Linked DNA regions of Homo sapiens: region 1 is linked to region 2. The links come from fine-mapping of genetic effects on gene expression. A gene starts in region 2. The other region holds a variant in brackets. All regions are shown on one strand. Distances are between the middles of the regions. Region 1 overlaps RHOA (ras homolog family member A). Region 2 holds the start of GPX1 (glutathione peroxidase 1).

Evidence for each region. PIP is the estimated chance that this variant, and not a neighbour inherited with it, causes the effect.
Region 1: its variant is the best candidate, but not a certain one, in a credible set for the expression of GPX1 in prefrontal cortex (BrainSeq, PIP 0.58).

What each region holds. Positions count from the first base shown.
Region 1 is chr3:49,397,149-49,402,523 of GRCh38, forward strand. The region is part of intron 1 of RHOA (ras homolog family member A); the gene reads right to left. Among named protein-coding and RNA genes, the nearest start is that of RHOA, 12 kb to the right of the region's middle. The variant C/CT (reference allele first, on the strand shown) is at 2,429.
Region 2 is chr3:49,356,285-49,361,659 of GRCh38, forward strand. GPX1 (glutathione peroxidase 1) reads right to left here and starts at 2,069. Exons shown (of 2, transcript NM_000581.4): 1 at 1,743-2,069; 2 at 892-1,463. The coding sequence starts at 1,994. The coding sequence ends at 1,104. It overlaps RHOA (ras homolog family member A), which reads right to left. Exons shown (of 5, transcript NM_001664.4): 5 at 2,861-4,098. The coding sequence ends at 3,925. RefSeq lists enhancers at 1,745-2,353, 2,262-2,591, 2,354-2,962 and a silencer at 2,042-2,101.

The sequences.
Region 1 (5,375 bases), 41 kb after region 2:
GTCAGAAAATAAATGTTACAACATGGATGAACCTTTAAAACATTGCATAAATGAAAGAAGCCAGTCACAAAAGACAATATATGATTCCATTACACGAAATATCCAGAATAGGCAAATCTATAGAGACACAAAGTAGATTAGTGGTTACCTAAGGCTGGGCGTGGTGATAGGGAGATTGAAGATGACAGTTGAAGAACATAGGGTTTCTTTTTGAGGTGATAATAATGTTCTAAAATTGACTGTAGTGATACACGTAAAACTCTGTGAATATACTAAAACCCACCAAACTGTTCATTTCAAATGAATGGTGTGATATATGAATTATATCTCAGTAAAATTGTTACCAAAAGAGTTGGTTTTTGTTTTTTTAAAAAAAATAAGCGTTGAAAGTATGGCAGAGACTGCCTGCTTATCTGCCTCAATAGCTTTCCCCTTCATAGTCACATGGCTGCCAGTTATAAAGACTACATTTCCCAGCATTCACTGCAGCTAGGTGGGGTATTAAGATCTGACCAACAGACTGTATGCAGAAAATGATGATGCAGGAGAGCAGAGAACTGCTAGAGCAACATTACGAGATTAGAGGGGAACGAGATTTCGCTTGCAAGTGGAAGGGCTGACCTTAGATAGAACAATGGACTCCCAAGGGACTGATCCACAGGAATAGAAAAATAAGTAAGAAGCAAGATCATAACAGCTGATAGAGGCAAGGAAAGGGAACAGGAGATTTGAGCCAAAGGACATGGTGCTATATTATCCTAAAAGCAGGAGAATAAACGGACTAAGGAATCTTAGCGGGACTGCTAGGCAGTGCTAAAAGCAGCCACCTTTGAGGTCAAGGGTCCATGAGTTCAAAGAGAGACAAGTCAGTGAATTTTTTCTTTCGCTACATTCAGTCAAAAGCACAGAATAGGTAAAGAGTAGGATTTAGGCTAGGCGTGGTGGCTCACACCTATAGTCCCAGCACTTTGGGAGGCTGAGGTGGGCAGATCACTTGAGGTCAGGAGTTTGAGACCACCCCGGCCAACACGGTGAAACCCCATCTCTACTAAAGTAGCCAAGTGTGGTGGCGCGCTCCTGTGGTCCCATCTACTCAGGAGGCTGAGACACGAGAATTGCTTGAACCCAGAAGGCGGAGGTTGCTGTGAGCCTTGAGATCGCACCACTGCACTCCACCCTGGGTAACAGAGCAAGACTTTGTCAAAAAAAAAAAGTAAGATCTAAACCAGGGCTGAGATTTTGCCAGGTAACATAAAATGAGAGACAGAACAAGAAATGGAGAATACATAAAAGGGGGTAATTACAGTGATAAACTAAAGGTAAGGAGCAGTGAAAGGGTAGGCAGTAGCATCAATAGATGTTAAGCCCCAGTGGGGGCTTAAAGAATTTTGCTGGCAGGGCGCGGTGGCTCACGCCTGTAATCCCAGCACTTTGGGAGGCCAAGGCGGGTGGATCACGAGGTCAGGAGATCGAGACCATCCTGGCTAAAACACCATGAAACCCCGTCTCTACTAAAAGAAAAAAAAAAAGAAATACAAAAAATTAGCTGGTCGTGGTGGCGGGCACCTGTAGTCCTAGCTACTCTGGAGGCTGAGGCAGGAGAACGGCGTGAACCCGGGAGGCAGAGCTTGCAGTGAGCCGAGATTATGCCACTGCACTCCAGCCTGAGCGACACAGCGAGACTCCGTCTCAAAAAAAAAAAAAAAAAAAAAAAAAAAAAAAAGAATTTTGCTGTCTGAGTATTACAGTATTATTACAGGGCTTTAATACTGGTGGCTCACGCCTGTAATCCCAGTTATTTGGGAGACTGAGACAGGAGAATTGCTGCCTCGGGAGGCAGAGGTTGCAGTTAGCTGAGACTGTGCCACTGCACTCCAGCCTGCGTGACAGAGCAAGACTCCGTCTCAAAAAAAAAAAAAAAAAAAAAAAAAAAAAAAAAGGCTGGGCACGGTGGCTCATGCCTGTAATCCCAGCACTCTGGGAGGCCGAGGCAGGCAGATCACGAGGTCAGGAGATCAAGACCACCCTGGCTGACACAGTGAAACCCCGTCTCTACTAAAAACTACAAAAACTTAGCTGGGCGTGGCGGCGGGCACCTGTAGTCCCAGCTACTCGGGAGGCTGAGGCAAGAGAATGACGTGAACCTGGGAGGCGGAGCTTGCAGTGAGCCGAGATCGCACCACTGCACTGCAGCCTGGGCGACAGAGCGAGACTCTGTCTCAAAAAAAAAAAAAGTGTGTTAACAAATGATCTCTGAGACAAGATTATTAAATGAAAAAAGTGATGTGCCAAATATGTCATATGCTATCATACCATAGTGTAATGGCGGGATACATAGATATACAAAACAGGGCTTGACAGAGGTGTACAATATTCACCAATAGACACTGGTATATGTATAGACTGTCTCTAGAATAGTACACAGGAG[C/CT]TTTTTTTTTTTTTTCCCCCAGAAAGGGTCTTGCTTTGTCACTCAGGCTGCAGTGCTGGAGTGCAGTGGAGTGATCATGACTCACTGCGGCCTAGAACTCCTGGGCTCCCCTCAGCTGCCCCAAGTGCTGGGATTACATGCACTGGTCTACAAGAAACACAACAGGTACCTCTAGGGGCCATATATCCTTTTGCACTGTTTGAATTTACCAAATAAAACTATTATGTTTTCGAACAAGATAAATTTTTAAATGTAGGGACTTTAAAAGATTTATATAGTAGATTACATCAAGGGGGTAAGAAATAAAGCAATACATATGCAAAAATCCATCTTGGAATCTGAACTCAAGAAACTACAGAAACGGCTGGGCACGGTGGCTCACGCCTGTAATCCCAGCACGTTGGGAGGCCGAGGTGGGCGAATCAGGAGTTCGAGACCAGCCTGACCAACAAGGTGAAACCCGTCTCTACTAAAAATACAAAAAAATTAGCTGGGCATGGTGGCACGTGCTTGTAATCCCAGCTACTCGGGAGGCTGAGGCAGGAGAATCGCTTGAACCCGGGAGGCGGAGCTTGCAGTGAGCCGAGACCGCGCCACTGCACTCCAGCCTGGGTGACAGAGCGAGACTCCATCTCAAAAAAAAAAAAAAACAAAAAAAACGAAACTACAGAAGCATACTGCCCCCCTCTCCCCCAACATCTTCCCTAGTCTAACCAAAACTGGCCACCCCCCACCACCTCCTGTTTCTATAAGGAGATAAAACAAGATTATCTGTGTTCAGGCCAAGGGTTGATTCCCACTACTCATAACATTTCCCCTAAACCTCATTTTAAAGGCCAAGAGTTACACCCTCACCACCAGAGGCCTCAGTGGCTTCCTGGCTACTCTAAATTCTTCTTTATCCCTGAACTCCTACAGCACTTCGTCTTTCAGTGCTGTTTCATGCCTATGTGAGCTTGAATCACTGAATACTTTGTTCTGGTACAGAGAAGACTGTATCAGGACTTGGTGCCATGCGTCTGTAATCCTAGCTACTCAGGAGGCTGAGGTAGCTGGATCCCTTGAGCCCAGGAGTTCAAGGCTGCAGTGAGCTATGATCATGCCACTGCACTCCAGCCTGGGTGACAGAGCAAGATTGTAGCCAAAAAGGTGAGGTGGGGGGATGGTATATAAAAGGGTTAATTTCCAGCCGGGCACGGTGGCTCACGCCTGTAATTCCAGCACTTTGGGAGGCCGAGGCGGGCGGATCACGAGGTCAGGAGATCAAGACCATCCTGGCTAACACGGTGAAATCCCGTCTCTACTAAAAATACAAAAAAATTAGCCGGGCATAGTGGCGGGCGCCTGTAGTCCCAGCTATTCGGGAGGCTGAGGCAGGAGAATGGCGTGAACCCGGGAGGCAGAACTTGCAGTGAGCTGAGATTGCACCACTGCACTCCAGCCTGGGCGACAGAGACTCCGTCTCAAAAAAAAAAAAAAAAAAAAGAGTTAATTTCCTACCTTTTAGAAAGGAAACTTTCAAAAGCCCAAATTACTAATATTAGACACTAGGGCCTTCAAATTTACTTCCTCTAAGTTACTACCCTTCTTTTCTGAATTGACCTTAGGAAGTTACTTCTTTCCAAACAAGACCTACAAGTAACAACGCATAGTATGTAAAACTCCTGACCAGGTGTGGTGGCTCACAACTGCAATCCCAGCACTTTGGGAGGCAGGAGGACTGCTTGAAGCCAAGAGGTGGAGACCAGTCTGGGCAATACAGTGAGACCTCATCTCTCAAAAAAATATGAAAACGGACAGGCAAGGTAGCTTATGCCTATAATCCCAGCACTTTGGGAGGCCATGGCGGATGGATCACTTGAGCCCAAGAGTTTGACACCAGCCTGGGCAACATGGCGAAACCTCTGGGAGGCAAAGGTTGCAGTGAGTGGAGATCGGGCCACTGCACTCCAGCCTGGGCGACAAGAATGAAACTCTGTCTCAAAAAAAAAAAAAAAAAATTGGGGAAATGAAGTTGAAAACATAGAGCTGTTTATTTTGTTTACTGACTGCATGGGAAATTCCTGATGAAAGGGCCAAACTACCATCCATCCATCTGTCCATAATGAACTTGAGCCTGGTATAGGTTGAGTACTGCTTATCCAAAATGCTTGGGCCCAGAAGTGTTTCAGATTTCAGAATTTCTTCAGATTTTGGAATATCTGCATTATACTTACTGGTTCAGTATCCCAAATCCAAAAATTGAAAGTCTGAAAGGCACCACTAGGCATTTCCTTTGAATGTCATGCCAGCGCCCATCTTGAAGCATTTCAGATGCTCAACCTGTACTGCCATTATTTGGCCATCCTGATCAAGTGGCTGCCAAGCTCTTAGTTCAAGAGCTTTCCTTTCTGTAGCAGTAAGGGCACTTGGAGATCAAGAGCAGCAGGAATAAGGCACATGGTGGTAAGCAATGAAGAAAACCTTCAATTTACTGCCAAGTGAAAATCACTTCAAACTCAAGTTCTTTGGGGAAAGACAGGCAAGGAACAATCCCTGAGGTAACATACCGTCAAGTTTCCTAAATAAGAGCATGAAATCATTTATCTCAAAATGTAAATATTATAAGGTTAACCTTCAATGGATGCACAGAATCAGGATTTGACTTTGTTTGGCCTAATTCCAAACTTACATTGCCTCTAAGACAATGCGTATCTAGTAAAACTGACAAAGAAAAATGAACCATTAGGTACCTCCCAGTGAGCTGGCTAAGAATTTATATATGCTTATTGTAAACCTTATTGCAGGAGTTTACTTTTACCAAGTATATATATTTCTTAAAATAAAAAACTAGGCCGGGTGCAGTGGTTCACACCTATAATCCCACCACTTTGCGAGGCCAGAGCTCAGGAGTTAGAGACCAGCCTGGACAACATGGCAAAACGTCATCTCTATAAAAATTAAATTA
Region 2 (5,375 bases):
TTGGGCAGGGCATAGTCAGAAGGGCCAGTTAAATTATAGTTTTCTCACTCTTGAATATATGAGGCAGAAACTTGTAAGATCATCGTCACAGCAGATACAGGCACTTGGTAGCAACATGGAAAGATCTAGCCAGATAACAGAATTTATAACATTGCATGAGCTTCCGTGTAAAATGGGATTGTGTGGACCTAACAATTGGAGAGGCCATGACTCCAAATGTGAGTGGGGGCTCATGTTATTTTGTGACAGTCATTTCAGCGTGCAGCAAGTAGTCAGAAGTCTATCATTTGAGTTAGGCAGTCAACCATTGCCTTGTGTCTTTTTTGAAGTAAGGACTTTGTTGTAACTGGGTCTTGAGATGGCCCTTTGCATGTTCTGGTGAAGGCAGAAATGCAGGCCAGGAGCCAGACTTCCCACAAAGGAAAGAGTGGATCCTACACGCTGCAGACAAAAGGACAGAAAGTTCAGACTTGGCTAGGATAAGGGAAGGAGGATTAAGTTCCCACCACTATGACAATGAGGTTAGAAAAAGTATCGCCAGGCCGGGTGCGGTGGCTCATACCTGTAATCCCAGCACTTTGGGAGGCCGAGGCGGGTGGATCACGAGGTCAGGAGATCGATACCATCCTGGCTAACACGGTGAAACCCTGTCTCTACTAAAAATACAAAAAATTAGCCGGGCGTGGTGGCAGGCACCTGTAGTCCCAGCTACTCAGGAGGTTGAGGCAGGAGAATGGCGTGAACCCGGGAGGCGGAGCTTGCAGTGAGCCTAGATTGCGCCACTGCACTCCAGCCTGGGCAATAGAGCAAAAAACTCCGTCTCAAAAAAAAAAAAAAAAAAAGAAAAGAAAAAGAATTCCCAAATGACAATGACACAGGACATACACACAGTTCTGCTGACACCCGGCACTTTATTAGTGGGGAAACTCGCCTTGGTCTGGCAGAGACTGGGATCAACAGGACCAGCACCCATCTCGAGGTGGTATTTTCTGTAAGATCAGGTGTTCCTCCCTCGTAGGTTTAGAGGAAACACCCTCATAGATGAAAACCCCCCCGAGACAGCAGCACTGCAACTGCCAAGCAGCCGGGGTAGGAGGGGCGCCCTAGGCACAGCTGGGCCCTTGAGACAGCAGGGCTTCGATGTCAGGCTCGATGTCAATGGTCTGGAAGCGGCGGCTGTACCTGCGTAGGGGCACACCGTCAGGGCCCACCAGGAACTTCTCAAAGTTCCAGGCAACATCGTTGCGACACACCGGAGACCAGGTGATGAGCTTGGGGTCGGTCATAAGCGCGGTGGCGTCGTCGCTGGGAGCTGGCAGGGCCTCCCGCAGGAAGGCGAAGAGAGGGTGCGCCCCCGCACCGTTCACCTCGCACTTCTCGAAGAGCATGAAGTTGGGCTCGAACCCACCACCAGGCCGGACGTACTTGAGGGAATTCAGAATCTCTTCGTTCTTGGCGTTCTCCTACAGGAGAGAAGGGCAGCTAGAACCCGGGGTCAAGAGGAGGAGAGAAACGTTCTAACCACAAACAAGGGAGATTTTCTATGAGTCACCGGGATTTTGCCCTCCATGCGCAATCCCAAGGGCGGAGAGGAATTTCAGCAGCTACGAGCAACAGAAAGGAAACGAGAGAGTAGCCAGACTCTCCGCGCATGGAGCCGACGGCACCCACCAGCACACCGCCGGCGCCCCCAGCCACTACTGCACGTCCGCCCCCGCCCCGCCCCGCTCCGCCCGGCGCACCTGATGCCCAAACTGGTTGCACGGGAAGCCGAGCACCACCAGGCCCCGGGGTCCGAGGCGCCGCTGCAGCTCGTTCATCTGGGTGTAGTCCCGGACCGTGGTGCCTCAGAGGGACGCCACATTCTCGATAAGTAGTACCTTGCCCCGCAGGGAGCCCAGGCTCACAGGCTCCCCGCCGGCCAGCGGGCGCGCCGAGAAGGCATACACCGACTGGGCCGCCGCCGCCGCCGCCGCTAGCCGAGCAGCACACATGGCGCAATTGTCCAAGAAGCCAGCGGAGCGCCCCGAACAAGCACTGTAAGGGGAGGCCAGCAGGCGCCTCCTTTTAACTGGCCGGCGGCGGGTCACGTGGCACAGGCAGTTTTCCGGGCCTGAGGGTCCCGCCTCATCCGGCCCCCGCCCTACCCGGAGGGCTCGGCCCCTCCTCAGCCAGGAAAAGGCTGGAGAGTGCGCCCGAGCGGGACGCGTGCTCCTCCTAAGCCGGAAGGAGCAGCAGGCATGTCTGGTCTGGCCCAGGCAACCAGGCGGCAGCGGTCCAGGTTACCCTTCCAAGGGCTGGGGCCCTCGAGGGCTCCGTTTTTTCTCAGAGGTTCCTGAGTTAGGATGTGGGGTTTGGCATAGGAGGCTGGTGGGCGACGGCAGCAGCTGCAGGAGCTGCCCGTGCACAAACAGCCCTCCTCTCCTGTGCCATGTTACCGGCAGTGCAGGGGACAGCCAGAGGGATCTAGGCTTCCGGTCTCCCTCCTCCCTGTCTCCAAAGCGGCACCGCCCTCGTGCGGGTTTTCTAACCGGGCAGAGTCCTGGAAGCTCTGCCCCAGCCTCCTTAAGTGGAGCCCAGTAGCTCGCCGAGGCCAAGGAAACGCTGCCGGAGTCCTCCCTCCCTGGCCTCCTCAGGCTGCATTCACCCTACCCCCAAATCTGAACCAGAATGCGGTACAGGGTAATCATTTCCATGTTGTTGGGAGGGACCAGATTAGCTGCTGGGTGGGTGGGAGGTGGGGCACAAGCTAGTCCTTTGCACTCAACAAACCTCTCCAGGGTGAGCTAGGCCAGGAAGTCCTTGCATCCTCCTACCCCCAGCCCTGGAGAGAGCAACACAAACAACAGGATACAGGAAGTTTAGAAAACTGCCTTTATTCTATTAGTAGTTGGAAAAATTAACTGGTACAGAAAAAAAGTTTAGTCAGCTGGAGAGAAGAGAGACTGAGTGCCACCCATGAGAACTGGTGGCTCCTCTGGGAGGGAACCTGGATACAGTGAGGAGAAAAGAGCACTGTGAATTAGAGCCAGATGCTTAAGTCCAGGTGAGACAGGTTATGCCATCTTCCAAAGTGTCTAATTGCCTCAGGCGTGAAACCAATTCCTATTTACTTAGCCCAGCTCCATGGGGTACTGAGATACATGGGGCCGAAAAGGGGTAATATGGCCATCTTTTATCAGAAAAAGTGACAAAACGGGAATTTAAAAAATGAATTTTCCATCTGACTTTATTTCCAAATACACTTTCTTTTTTAAAAAACCAATACACTTTCTTTGAGGATGACAGTATTAGGAAATCCAATTATACAAAAAATACTACATCTAGTCTGGGGTAGATATATTTATTTTTGGTAACATACATTAAGTGGCACTAATTACACAGTAACTATAAGGTAACTAACATGAAACCACAGAACTGTAACTCTGCCACAGCTGCATGAACTTGGGCTTTTCTGGTTGAGCCCATTTTCAAAAAACTGCCCACCCCAGAGCTATGCCAACAAAATCTGTTACGGAGTAAAGCCCTGAAGTGGTGACTCACCAGAGTACCTTGCAGCTGACAGATAATAGGCAGGACATGTTAGTTATAAAGTAGTTACAGCCTAATTCACAAAAGTTACCAACTGTTTCTCTTTCTAGAAAGAAGCAAGAAGTTAAGAAATTCCTTGAATTAGCGCCTGGTGTGTCAGGTGGGAGTGCAGAGGAGGGCTGTTAGAGCAGTGTCAAAAGGACCCTGGTGGGCCAGACGGGTTGGACATCGTTAATAATCATAGTTGGCTTCTAAATACTGGTAGCAAGATGACTTCTGATTTGTAATCTTAGGTAAATTATAGATAAATGAAAAAGGCCAGTAATCATACACTAAGATTAATAAACAGCACTTCAAAATTAACCGCATAAGGGCTGTGCTTGCAGCAAGGTTTCACAAGACAAGGCACCCAGATTTTTTCTTCCCACGTCTAGCTTGCAGAGCAGCTCTCGTAGCCATTTCAAAAACCTCTCTCACTCCATCTTTGGTCTTTGCTGAACACTCCATGTACCCAAAAGCGCCAATCCTGTTTGCCATATCTCTGCCTTCTTCAGGTTTCACCGGCTCCTAGCAAAGAAAAAAAAATAGTCCTTTTAGCTAATAGTGTGGCATACATATAGTAAGTAAAAAGTATTCAAATTCATCTAAAAGATTTTTTTTTCTTTTTTTGAGACAGTTTTGCTCGTCGGTCGCCCAGGCTGGAGGGCAATGGCATGATCTCAGCTGACTGCAACCTCCACCTCCTGGGTTCAAGGGATTCTCCCGCCTCAGCCTCCCGAGTAGCTGGGACTACAGGTGCCCACCACCACGCCCAAGTAATTTTTTAGTAGAGATGGGGTTTCACCATTTTGGCCAGGCTGGTCTCGAACTCCTGACCAAGTGATCTGCCCACCTCGGCCTCCCAAAGTGCTGGGATACAGGCATGAGCCACTGTACCCAGCCTAAAAAAAAAAAAGACTTTCAAAAGCTGTTAAACTTGGCTGGGTGTGGTGGCTCACACCTGTAATCCCAGCACTTTGGGAGGCTGAGCTGGGCGGATCACGAGTTTAGGAGATCAAGACCATCCTGGCCAACATGGTGAAACCCCTCTTTACTAAAATACAAAAAATCACCTGGGTGTGGTAGTGGGCGCCTGTAACCCCAGCTACTCAGGAGGCTGAGGCAGGGGAATCGCTTAAATCTGGGAGGCGGAGGTTGCAGTTGAGCCAAGATCGTGCCACAGCACTCCAGCCTGGCGACACAGTGAGGCTCCTTCTCAAAAAAAACAAAACAAAAAAAAAAAACAACAAACTGCTAAACTTATGAAATTTTTAAACTGACATATGGTAACTACCCCCTACCAAACATAAAATCTCTAATAAACATGGTATTCACTGGGAAGTAGAGGGAAGAGGTCAGAGGAGCCCTGGAAGGTTAAGGAGTCAATCAAGAGCAAAATTACTCAAGCTACCAATCCAGGACTAAATGCCCTGAAGGAAATAAAGCCTACCCTTGACATTCAGACAGAGAAACCTGAGTAAGAGAACTTAGGTTGAAGATCTCAATGCTTCTCCTCCAGTGAGGAAGCCCTGCCATTAGGCCAGCTGGTTTCTGAGAGGCCAAGATGCCACATCCATCATCACTTTTAAAAAGGCATTGGGAGTGGAGGAGAGGGAAGGCATTAGGGCTTTCTATCTGGACTCCCAGCCTTCAAGATTTCCTTATCTTTCAGTTGCCACTAATTTATCTTTGGCCTCACATGTACCAAAGTAATAGCTGGGGAAGGCAATCAAGAGTCTAACAGGCCCGGGCGTGGTGGCTCACACCTGTAATCCCAGCACTTTGGGAGGCCAAGGCGGGCAGAT